Regions from separate parts of the Homo sapiens genome. Here region 2 is linked to region 1. Evidence: fine-mapped expression QTL. Tissue or cell type: whole blood. Region 1 holds a variant in brackets; the other region holds the start of a gene. All regions are shown on one strand. Distances are from middle to middle.

The links. PIP is the estimated chance that this variant, and not a neighbour inherited with it, causes the effect.
Region 2: SIRPB2 starts here. The variant in region 1 is fine-mapped to the expression of SIRPB2 in whole blood (INTERVAL, PIP above 0.99).

What each region holds. Positions count from the first base shown.
Region 1 is chr20:1,428,299-1,436,042 of GRCh38, reverse strand. No RefSeq gene overlaps it. Among named protein-coding and RNA genes, the nearest start is that of NSFL1C, 35 kb to the left of the region's middle. The variant G/A (reference allele first, on the strand shown) is at 4,188.
Region 2 is chr20:1,489,123-1,494,994 of GRCh38, reverse strand. SIRPB2 (signal regulatory protein beta 2) reads left to right here and starts at 3,575. Exons shown (of 5, transcript NM_001122962.2): 1 at 3,575-3,720. The coding sequence starts at 3,636.

The DNA of each region.
Region 1 (7,744 bases):
TGGGCATGGCTCCCTTCACTGTCGGGTTGGATTCTCATTACTGTCTTTTGGAGATGCCTGGGATGCACTGCATTGTACAGACAACTGCCTTCATCTTTGGAATGAGTTTTAAGTTGTCTTGTAATAGCTCTTTTGGCTTCACTGATAGAAGGACCCAGATAAGAATACAGTTTTTTCGCATTGTATTTATTAGTGTTCTAAAATATCTTTTTCTTGAAGAGTCTTATGATCAAGCACCCTGTATTTTAGGAAATTCAGCTGTTGTAAATCTACTTTTTTTAAAGTTCTTATTACAGCATGTAACAAATTACAAAAACATGTAATTTGTAAAAAAAAAAAAAAAATCCTAGGAGACTTAAACAAAAACAATCACCAGCTACCTGAAAACTCAGAAAAATTTGGCCTTGTGCCCCCCAGTTGAGTCAGTTAATGAAGAGATTTTGAATAATGACCATGAGGGCAAACTGCCCAAATCAGGTTCTCAGCTCTGCCATTTATTAGCTCTGAGACCCTGGGCAACCCAACAGCCCCTCTGGGCCTCCTTTTCTTCATCTGCAAAATGGGTATGTCAGTATAACTGATACAGAATAGGTGAGCCCCAAAATTGGTGCTTATCCCAGAAGGGTCCTTAGCTTTTAAGGACAAGCCAGTGGAATTGGCAATCTTTTGTTGAACAGTACTGCTCTTTGTAGAGCAAGGATAACTCCTAGGCAGTGCACTTCAGTCAGCAACATATGGGCTCCTGGCAACTGTATACTCACATAAACCCATTTTTAATTACATGCAAATTAAGGGGCAAGCCAATGCAAACTGAGGGACAGGTTATTTAGAACTTCCTAGGAAAGGGGTGGTAACTTCCAGGTAATTACCATGACATTTGTAAACTGTCATGGTGCTTGTGGGAGTGTCATATGCTAATGAGCAATGAGGGCAGCTAGGGATCACTTTCCTCACCATCTGCTGGTTCCTGCGGTTTCTTCACTTTGTGTAGACCACATCCTGTTTTGGTCAGCAGGGTTGTGACCAGAAAATAAGTTCTGCCAGACTGCTGCCTCATAAGAGTTGTTATACATTTGGCCATATGAGTGAGTATTAACTGTTAACCATTTTCTAATTCATTTAATTTTTAAAATTATCATACAGTAAAATTAACTATGTTGTATATAATTATACAGATTTCAGCACACGTATAGATTCATGTAACCACCACTACAATCAGGACACAAAACAATTCCATCATCCCAGAACCTCCCTCATGCAATGCCTTGATAGTCACACTACCCCTCAAACCCAATCCCTGACAGCCACTGATCTCTTCTTCATCATTGTGGTTTTGTCTTTTCCAGAACATCATGTAAATGGAAGCATACAGCATTTAACCTTTGGAGACTGGCCTCTTAGCATAATTCCTCTGAGATTCATCTGGAGGAACAATTTTCATATGTTGTGCTTATGGAAAGTTCATTGTTTTTTCATTGCCAAGTAATAGTCCATGATATGAATGTGCAACAATCTGTCTATCTGTTCAACCATTAGAGGATATTTGGGTTGTTGCCAGTTTGGGGCAATTAGAAATAGAGCTGCTATAAACATTCATGTACAGGTTTTTCTGTGAACAAAATTTTCCTTTCTCTAGGGCAGCAGTCCCCAATCTTTTTGGCATCAGGGACAGGTTTCGTGGAAGACAATTTTTCCACAGACTTAGGGAGTAGGGCGGATGGTTTCGGGATGATTCAAGCACATTTACATTTATTGTGCATTTTATTTCTATTGTTATTACATTGTAATATATAATGAAATAATTATACAATTCACCGTAATGTAGAATCAGTGGGAGCCCTGAGCTTGTTTTCCTGCAACTGGATGGTCCCATCTTGGGGTGTTGGGAGACAGCGACAGATCATCAGGCATTAGATTCTCATGAGAAGCACACAGTCTAGATCCCCTACATGCACAGTTCACAATAGGGTTTGCACTTCTATGAGAATCTAATGCTGCTGCTGATCTGATCTGACAGGAGGTGGAGTTCAGGTGGCAAGCAGTGGGGCAAGGCTATAAATATAGATAAAGCTTTGCTCACTCACCAGCCTCTCACCTCCTCTGTGCGGCTGGTTCCTAACAGGCCATGGACTGATACTGGTTCATGACCTAGGTTTTGGGGACCTCTGCTCTAGGGTGAATACTCTAGAGATGTCTAGGGTCTGGGGTGGCTGGGTTATATGGTAAGTGTATGTTTAACTTTATTTAAAACTGTCAAATCATTTCCCAGAGTGGCTGTTGCACTGCACATTCCTGTCAGCAATATATGAGATTTTTGGGTGCTACTTAGCTTCACCAACACTTGGTATTGTCAGCATTTTTATTTTAGTCATTTTAATAGGTGTGTAGTTATCTCTTGTCATGGTTTTGACATTAGCATGTCTTGTGATGCTAATGATGCTGAACATCTTTTCATATGCCATTTGCCACCCATAAATCCTTTTTGATAAAGCATTTTTAAGAGTCCTTGCCGGCCAGGCATGGTGGCTCATGCCTGTAATCCCAGCACTTTGGGAAGCTGAGGTGGGCAGATCACAAGGTCAGGAGATCGAGACCATCCTGGCTAACATGGTGAAAACCCGTCTCTACTAAAAATACAAAAAATTAGCCGGGCGTGGTGGCGGGTGCCTGTAGTCCCAGCTACTTGGAGGGCTGAGGCAGGAGAATGGCGTGAACCCAGGAGGCGGAGCTTGCAGTGAGGCGAGATGGTGCCACTGCACTCCAGCCTAGGTGAGAGTGCAAGACTCCGTCTCCAAAAAAAAAAAAAAAAAGAGTCCTTGCCTTTTTGTTTATTGGATTATTTGTTTTCTTACTGTTGGATTTTGAGAATTCTTTACAAATTGTGATTACAAAAATATAAATGCAGAATATCTATGAGTCCACCGTTACCTTGATATCAAAGGTATGATTCTATGAGTCCACCGTTACCTTGATATCAAAGGCAGACAAAACGACTGTCCGGTATATCTTATGAATATAGACTCAAAAAATCCTCAACAAAATAGCAAACCAAATCCAGTAGCACATTCAAAGGATTATAGATCATGACCAAGTGGGATTTCTCCCAGAAATGCAAGGGTGGCTCAACATAAGAAAAAAAAAAATCCATCAATGTAACACAACTCTGTAAAGAGGGAAATGATATCACAATAGATACATTAAATGCATGCAACAAAATTCAACACTTCAAACACTTTCAGGATACAAACACTCACCAACAAATCAGAATACAGAGAACTTCCTTAACATGATAAAGGTCACTTACACAAAACCCACAACTCACATTATACTCAATGGTAAAAGAGCAGAAGCTTCCCCACTGAGCAGGAACAAGACAAGAATGCCCATTTTTACCACTACTATTAAATATTGTACTGGAAGTCCTAGCCAGAGCAGTTAGGCAAGAAAAAGCAATAAACAGCCTCCAAACTGGAAAGGAAGCAGTAAAGTTATCTCTATTTGAAGATGAAATAATTCTATGTATAGAAAATATAACAATACCAAAATGCACACAACTACTAGAGCCAATAAACAAATTCAACATAGTTGCAGATTGCAAGATCAGTGCACGAAAGTCCATTTTCTATGCATCAGCAATGAACAGTCTGAAAATGAAATTAAGTAACAATTCCATTTATAACAGCATCCAAAAGAGTAAAATACTTAAACCAAGGAGAAAGACTTCTATGCTGAAAACTACAAAACATTGCTGAAAGAAATTAAAGAAGACCTAAATAAATGGAAGACAACACATGTTGATGTATTGGAATATTAATTGCAAATGATCCACAGATTCAATGCAACCCCTATCAAAATTCCAATGGCATTTCCTAAGGAAATAGAAAAACTAATCCTCAAATTTATGTGGAACTGGAATGAACCCCAAGTAGTCAAAATACTATTGAAAAAGAAACACACCAAAAAAGAAAGAAAAAGAAACACAAAGTTTCAGGGCTCATGCTTCCAGATTTCCAAACATGCTCCAAACTTCTATAATCAAACCAGTGTGGTACTGACATAAGGACAGACATATACACCAGTGGAATATAATTGACAGCCTAGAAATAAATATCTATGGCTAATTGATTTTCAATAAGTGTTCAGCACAACTCAATGGGGAAAGAATAGTCTCTTCAACAAACAGTGCC[G/A]GGGCAACTGCATAATCACAGGCAAAAGAATGAAGCTGGACCCGTACCTCACTCCATACACAAAAATTAACTCAAAATGGATCAATGACCCAAATACAAGAGGAAAACATAGGGGTAAACTATTTAGAGAAAAACATAGGAGTAAATATTTATAACCTCAGACTTGGCAATGGATTCTTAGATTTGACACCAAAAGCATGAGCAACAAAAGGAAGAAATGGATAAATTAGACTTCATAAAAAGTAAAACCATTTGCACAATAAAATATATTATCTAGAAAGTAGAAACACAGCCCACAAAATGAGAGAAAGTATTTGCAAATAATGGACTTGTATCCAGAATATATAAAGAACACTTAAAACTCAACCACAAAAAAAAAAAAAAAAATTAAGAAATAGGCAAAGAACCTGAATAGACATATCTCCAGAGAAGACATACAAATGGCCAATAAGCACATGAAAGCATGTTCAGCATCATTTGTTACTAAAGAAATGCAAATGAAAACCACAGTGGGATACCACTTAACACCTGCAAGAGATAAACCACTTCACACCCGCTAGGATAACTATAATCAAAAACATGGAAAATAGCAAATGTTGATAAGGATATGGAGAAATAGAAACTTGTACACTGGGATCACACAATAGAGAACACTGTAGTAACATTTTGGTCTGCTCACAAGACCCAGAACATTTACCAGTTTTTGTTGTTGGTTTATTATTTTTCTGTTAAAAAAAATTGTGAAAAGTTTGTTTTAGCTGGATGATATTTTAATAGTTGCCAGTGCTTTGGAACTATGTAGATGTCACTACTTAACACATATACCTTATGTTTTGTTTTATTTTGTTTTACACTCAGTATAAATCAGGAACATTTAGCCAACCACCTAGCATTTAGAATCCTCTTTTTTATTGGCTTCTAAGGATATGGATGTTCCCATAACAGCAACAAAAACATTTTATAAATATCACTTGATAGACTTTAAGCACCTGCTTAACTCTGAATGTGTCCCAAATATTTAGTGTAGATAGATAGATAGATATTCAACAAATAAAGCAAAATATAACATGCATTTCACATTTTGTCTTTCCCTGTTACAATTTTAATAGCAGAACTGTATGACAAATTTAGGTGATCCTAGCATATGTTAAATTCAAATTAATGTAAAACAGATCAACAACAACAAAGAAACTCTATTTGAGCGAAGTCATGCTTTCTATTATAATAACTTGGCTTCGGTTATCCATCAAATGCACACTTACACTGTTGTCTGATTGTTTATAATAAAGAATACTGAACCTATAAAAGAAAAAAGAAACCCTTGTCACTGTTGGAAGTTGCTGTGGAAAACAATTTGGTGGCTCCTCAAAAAGCTAAACATAGAATTACATATGACCCAGAAATTCCACTCTTAGGAATTATATTAGTCAGAGTTCTCCAGAGAAACAGAACCAATGCAATACATATAGAGAAGATTTATTATGGGAATTGTTTCATGCAATTACAGAGGCCAAGAAGTCCCATGACATACTATTTACAAGCTGAAGAACCAGGAAAGATGGTGATGTAATTCAGTTGAAGTCTGAGAGCCTGAGAATCAGGGAAGCCAGTGGTGTAACTCCCACTCCAAGGCCTAAGGTCTGAGAATCTGGGGGTGGGAGGCTATTGATATAAGCCTTAGAGTCCAAAAGCCTGAGAACCAAGAGCTCCATTGTCTGAGAGCAGGAGAAGGTGATCCAGCTGAAAAAGAGAGAGAATTTGCACTTCCTCCACATTTTTGTTCTATTTTAATGGGCCTTCAACACCGAAGTTCATCCATGATGTCTGCCCACACTGGGGAGGATGATCTTCTTTACTCCATCCACTGATTCAAATACTAATCTAGAAAACACCCTCACAGACACACTCTGAAATAACGTTTTACCATAGATCTGGGTATCCCATAATCCAGTCAAATTAATGCATAAAGTTAAACATCCCAGATATATATTCAAAAGAATTGAAAACAGGTACTCAGATACTTGTACATCCATGTTTAATAGCAGCATTATTCAAAATACCCCAAAGGTGGAAACAACCCAAATGTCCAGCAATAAACAAGTGAATAAACAAATCGTGTACACATAAAATGGATTATTCAGAAACAAAAAAGTAATGAAGTATTGATAAATGCTATAATGGATAAACTTCCATGTTGTAAGGAATTTGGCCTCACTCAAAGAAATGTCTAGAATTTCCAACATGACAGGAGTGTCCTCTTTATTCCTGTTGAGTCACTGGGACCACACCTGATAGTTTATGTTGATGAGATTATTCATAACGCCACTCACACCTGATAGTCTTAGGGTGGAGGGGCTGGCCACACCAGAAAAACCAAACATAGAATTTACTGTGAGAGCTTTCAACCCAACCTCCAGGGTTGGGGTGGAGTGGGCTGAAGATTGAGTTTAATCAATCATGCCCATGTAGTGAAGCCTCATTAAAAACTCTAGATACCAAAGTTCAGGTGAGCTTCCCTGGTTGGCAATACTCTGTGCATGTTATCACACATCATGGTCACGAGGAAGTAACTGTCCATGACCCTGGGGAGAGGACACCGGACACTCCCCATTTAGACCCCTCCCAACTCCATCCTATGCATCTCTTCCTCTGGCTGGTTCTAATTTGTATATTTTTGTTGTAATAAACATAGACGTACATATAATAGGTTTCAGCGAGTCTTTCTGGTGAATTATACAACCTGAGGGTGGTTTTAGGAACCCCTTGAACTTGAAATTTGTGTCAGAGTCTTGGGAGTCAAATTTGGTGGTCTGGAAGACCCTACCTTAGCACAATGTTTTTGAGGTTACCTGCAGTTTGGCTAACTCTAGGTAACCTCAAAACCATTATGCTAAGTGAAAACTCAGACACAAGAGTCACATACTATGACAGCTACATGTTATATAAAATATCCAGAATAGGTAAATCCATAGAGAGAGAAAGCTGATTGATGGTTGCTGGGTGCTGTGTGGAAGGGACAATGGGAAGTACTGCTTAATGGATACTAGGCTTTATTTTGGGTTGACGAAAATATTTAGAACTAGATAGAGGTACTGGTTACACAACATTGAACATACTAAACGCCCTGTTAAAATGATTAATTTTATGTTACTTGATTTTTTTGTGTGTGTGTGACGGAGTCTCACTCTGTCACCCAGGCTAGAGTGCAGTGGTGCGATCTTGGCTCACTGCAACCTCCACCCTCCAAGTTCAAGCGATTCTCCTGCCTCAGCCTCCCAAGTAGCTGGGATTACAGGCACCTGCCACTGCGCCCGGCTAATTTTTTGTATTTTTAGTAGAGACGGGGTTTCACTATCTTGGCCAGGCTGGTCTTGAACTCCTGACCTCATGATCCACCCGCCTCGGCCTCCCAAAGTGCTGGGATAACAGGCGTGAGCCACCGCGCCCGGCCTGTTACTTGAATTTTATCTCAAGAAAAAGAGAATATCTACCCTTACTCATTTGAGTATTTTTGTAGTAATTTCTTCAAAAGGTATCAGATAACCCCAACATCTGTG
Region 2 (5,872 bases), 60 kb before region 1:
TTTTTCTGTATGTAAGTCAGAACTCCATAAAAATTTAAAACAAAAACACCAAAAAGCAAGCCATGGGATTTGACATGAAACAGGAAAAGGGAGTAAGAAAGGCAAACCAAGCCACAAGGCAGGACAAATTGCCAATAGCAGAAAATCAAGTTCGAGGACCTTAGAGACTTTAGTATTGAGACACTAAATGCTTCCTCCTAAATGAAAAGAGAAGAAATGAGGCTGGATGACTTTTGTGTTCGGTCATAAAAAGCCATGCTTGGTTCTCATGGGACTTGTGGCATTTGGTGTTTACAGACCATCGGAAATCCTCACTGCTTTATCTCTCAAGTTCACTGGTAGCTCTTGGAAAATCAGGAATCTGAGAGACTCACAGAAACTGCTGCTAATGATGCCAGCTGCCTGTGCTTTAGAGGTGATTTATAGAAGACAGGCAGCACTGCAAAACCTCACATTTGCATAAATTAAATCCACCAATTCTCACGTATCTGCCCCCTCTTCATGGCTAGAGAAGCAAGCATGCCTCTCCTTTTACCTTCCAAATCTAAGCAAGAACCTCTCCTTGGTTCATTATTCTCTCCTAGAATAATGATGGTAAAGAGTTACAGAAAATGCAGTTCTTAGGCTTTTAGAACCTCCAAAAAAAGAGGAGAGCATAGAAAAAGTGGAGATAGATGCTGATTGCAAAGACACCAGTGTTGCTCTTTTTAAGACTGGTATTTACTTGATTGCTGCTAAGGTTGAACGCTTTCCCTGTGCTTGCTTAGTATGTTTTCCATTTTATGGTAAACAATCAAAAAGCTGTTGTTTTAACAAAGTTCCATTTTTGTAGTGGAAGGAAAAAAAGCTTTATGGGTAGACTTGTGTTCTATATATACCTCGGGTGCTCTTGTTGAGGATAACTTAACTCAGGCTAGTAATAGACACTATAGTTCATGTGATACCCAAGCACACTGACCAGGAGGAATGCCACTGTTCCTAGTTACTGAGCAATTATCGCAAGCCAGTGCTTCACGCGCAATCGCATTTCATGTGTTTTATAGATGACGTGACAGATATAACATTTTTAACTATTTCCTTTTGCATTTCTCCACCTCCCAGCAGTTTAATTCCTTCCCTGGAAGCTTTTTTCCTATTCTAAGCTGGAGTGTGAGACTTGCTGTCTTGAGGAAGGGGCAGGAGGGATTCCATCTAGAACAAAGAAGGCCAGCTGTTAGGAAGAAGACTGAGATTAGGAAAGTCCCTACCAGAAGGAAAAGAAGGGGAACTCCTCCCCTTATGACTTGGTGAGGAAGTAAGAAAAAGAGGGAGAAGACAGGGGTTGAGATGCTAGAGTCCTGCCAACCCCACAGTCCTGAGGTCCAAATGCTGGGGTGGGGTGGGAATGGAGTTTAGGGATTCCTACAGCATAAGGGATCATGGCCTGTCTTCCCAGGGTGTTCATAGTCCACGACATCACAAAGAAACCATATTCAACCTGGCTTCTGAGCACTAGATCAGAAACAGTAAAGGAAATGAATGTCTTCAAAAACTGGTGACTGTGGTTAACCCTAAGGAAAGTAATGTCTGGGAGCCCTATAAATGAGACACTGAGACCTCTGAATTTTGTACCTGTAGATGCCCATGGCAGATAAATCACAAAAATATCCACAATTCTATACCCCCTCTTTGTATCCACACCTTTTGCAATTAGGCTTTGCAGTTCCCTAACAAGAGGCAAAGTCTATTTTCCATTCCTTGAATCTTGTCTGGTCTTGTAACTTGATGTGGCCAAAAGAATATGGCAGAAGTTTCCTTGTACCTTGCACTGTCTCTCAAAACTGCCCCTTTCATGAGAACAAGACTAAGTTAGTGTCCTGGAAGATGAGAGACCACATAGAGGACAGCTGAGGTACCTGGGTTAACAATCAGTCAACCGCAGTAACAAAGCCACCTAGCCAACCTGCAGCTGACCTCAAGTGCATGAACATTCCCAGCCAAAATCTGCTGAGATGAGAAGACCGAACCACCAAATGGAGCCCTGACTGAATTGTCAACCCACAAAATAGTAAATTAACTGAACATTTAGTTTTTAAGCTTCTAAATTTTGGGGTGCTTTGTTATGCAGCAATAGCTAACCAATACAATGCCTTGCCTATTAAAATAAAATTATTTGTAAGTAAAACTTTAGAAAAAAACAATAGCTGAGAAAGAAATCTGCATAGATGAGCAGGTGATTCAGAAATTCCCGTGTAAGAATGACATGGAAAGTACTGAGGGTCTGGTGGAATCATCTAGGCTTGTGGCCCTTTCAAAGAAGTTTCACTATATAGATCTCATTGACAGGAGAACAAGTAGAGGGAGTAATGGAATTGAGCAGGGGTATCAATGCAAGGCCTCAAAAGTCTAGAAAAGACCAGTCACAGACCCAGTGCAAAGTCCTTGGGGACCAGGCCAGACTAACCTCCTCATAGTAGACACCAGACCTCTGGGACCCAGGGGACATACTCAGATCCAAGGCCTGCCACCCTGTTGCTGGAGAATCTTCAGCTTCCTCTGCACCCAGAACCTTCTGAAGCATGAGGGAGGAAGTGAAATAATGAAAGGCTGAGTTGTTCTTGTACTTTTCCCTGAGTTAATTAAAAGACTGAGTTAACCTAAAAGACAATGGTGAAAGCCTATAGAGTGCTTACTCCACCCCACACATGCTACCACATTTTTATTCCTGTTTTACAGATGAGGAAACCGAGGCATAAAGTGGTCAAATGATTGTCCTAAGGTCACACAGCCAGACTGAGTAAAGCCAAGATTTGAACCCAGACAGTGTGGCTAAAGAGATTGCCTGGATTGCATGAATTGGCAAGATTAAGCTTTTCCTTCTTGATAGCCAGCACCAGGAGGCTCCTGAGGAAGTTCAGATCACTTACAGGAAACAAAGATGCCACAAACGCAAATGTTTGCACAATCTGAGTATGTTTCACTTGGACCCCAGGAAACAGAGGCTGAGAGAGTTACACATGATTATACTTTTAGGAATTAGGCCTGTACCCTCCCTGCAGTGCTAAAAGGAGGCCCCCATGGGGCTTGCTTTATAATAAATCCTTCTTCTTAAGCAATGTCACCTCCTCTACTTTCTGCACATCATGAATAATAATGGTTAATATGTTTAGCATTTACATTGTTCTGTGCCCTCACATTATTTCTCATAATCTTACCAAAACTGTTCTGAGGAGGGAACTGCCGTTGTTCCTACGCTGCAGATGAAGAAACAAAAGGCTCAGAAATGGGAAGTGACTTTGAAATCTTGCACAGCCAAGAAGAGGAAGATCCAATGTTTGCTCCAAATTCCACCCGATTCTGGAGTGCGTCCTATGACCTCAGTGCCCACCTCCCTCCCGGGCACCTAGGATGGAGCCTATGGCAAGGTTTTAGCACAGTGACTACAGGAATCACAGCCCAGACACAAAAGCAGGAAACCCTTTGACCGGGCTCCTTCCTATTGCACCAACAGCCTTGTGTTGCTGCAATGAAAACACTTCCCCAAGCAGCTGTGGCCAAGAGACGCAGAAACTGCCTTGTCCACGGGCCCCGCCTCAGACTCCAACACTCACAAGAGAGCAGAGGAGCCCCAAGTCTTGGGGACCACAGAAGATGCCATGTGCTCCACGATGTCGGCCCCCACCTGCCTGGCCCACTTGCCTCCCTGCTTCCTGCTGCTGGCACTGGTCCTTGTCCCCTCAGGTAAGTGGGGTCTAGGATAGAACAGGGTCCACCCCCGGCTGGTCAGTCCCTAGAGGGGCACTAAGTGCTCTGCCATGCCTGAAGAAGCTTGACCCCATGAAGATAGAGTAAAGAGGGGTCCACTGAAAATTTGCCTGACTCCGGCAGAGGGCACCCCCAGTGTCCCAAGAAGCAGCGTAGTGAAGTGATAAGCTCCCAGGCTCTGCGCTCACACCCACTGGCTTCCAGCTTGATTGCTCCTATGCCCACGTCAGATGCTGCAGCTCTTTTAGCCCCAGGAGCCTCTTCTACAAAACAGGGACGCTCATGGGACCTTTCTCTAGGGCTACTGTGAGTATTAAATAGAAAAGTGGTGAGGCTCAGCCCTGGGCCGGCTGCATAGTTTATGAGACCCACTGCAAAATGAAAACTGCGGTCTTTTGTTCAAAAAGTATTGAGCAACACAGCAGAGCAGTAAACCAAGCATGGGCTCCTTCTAAGCACAGGGCCCTGTGCGACTACATAGATGGCACAGCCATGAACCAGCCCTGGCTCAGCTTAAGACGCAGTAGGCTCAAACCTCACCACTAACCAGTTTAAGTAATTTCTTTCTGAGCCTCAGTTTTTCCAACTGTAAAATGGAGCTAAAAATAGGACCCACCTTGGGACTTTCTTAGGAGAATTTAACAAGATAATACCCATAAGTGCCTGGCATAACAAAGATTTGATAACTCTTGGCGATTATTATTATCATTCCCATGTTTCCTCTAACTCAGGGGCAGGCCAGGTTAGCTCCAGAGTCTTGAGACCCCTGAATATATAGCTCAGCCTCTGAGTCCAGAACTCTCTGATCTACCAGGCAGGGATACTTGGCTCTCAGTGGGCTCATTCCATCTCCTGCCCATCTGGGCCTCTGCTCCAGGCTCTACTGAGATCTAGATTCTGTCCATGACATCTTTGGTCCTCCGGGGTGGCCATCCCCAGGAGAGATCCTGGCAGAACCCAGGTGTGGGGTCGGACCTAGGTGCTCCCTTACTCATTGGCCGTATGACTCAAGACACCACTTCAATTCTCTAAGCTGATTTCCTCAATTCTAAGATGTGAATCATAATTGCTAGGTCTCATTCCACAGGTACTTTTGAGTGTCTGCTATGTTTTAGGCACTAGACTAGGAAATCAGAAATCTAAACTACTCAGAATAAAAAATATTCCCAATGATTGTTGCAATAGAATAGATGGAAAATAAGAGAAGTTGCTTAAACCAGTCAGTTGGAATGTTTGAGTCCAGCTGCATCTCAAGCTGAGTCAGGGCTGGTTCTTGGGTGTGCCCTCTATATAGTGGCACAGAGCCTCCTGCTTAGAAGGGCCCCATGCTTGGTTTAATGTTCTGCTGTGTTGCTCAATAGTTTTTGAACAAGGGACCTGCATTCCCGTTTTGCACTTGGCCTCACAAATTACGTAGCTGGCCCAGGATTGAGCCTCACCACTTCTCTATTTAATACTCACAGCAGCCCCGAGAAAAATATGAGTGCCCCTATTTTGCAGTAGAGGAGACTGGGGCTAACACATTTTCTATAAGGCTTTTAAAGGGAGCCCCATACAGGAACCATGAAAGGCAGAGGATGCAGATGGAAAATAGATGAGAAGGTCCAGCTCCACTGACAAGGCAGAGGCAAACCTCCTAGGACACCTCCTAAAGCCCAAGTGACAACACAGAAGGGGACTCAGAAGGGGAGAGGGAGGGAAGGGGTGTGGGCACCAGGACTGAGTCCAGGCTCCAGCTTCTTCCCTGGTGTTCACTTCCCCAGACTCACCCCTAGCTGAGATAAGACTTTCTGAGTGCTTCCTTCTTCCTCTCCTCCATTGCTTCTTTCTCCTCACACACGCAGGCTTCATCTTTACAAATAATTTATTTTTAACAGCTCTATTGAAGTGTAAGTGACATATATTAAACCGTACATATGTAAAGTACACAATTTGATAAGTTTTTTTTGTGAGTGCTGGGTGTATTTCACACTTGTGAAATCATCACCAAAATCAGCATCATGAACATATCCAGCGCCCAAAAGTTTCCTTGTGATTCGTCCTTGCCACTCCTCCTTGTCTCCAAAACAACCACGGATCTGTATTCTGTCACTATAGTTTGCATTTTCTAGAATTGTATATAATAAGG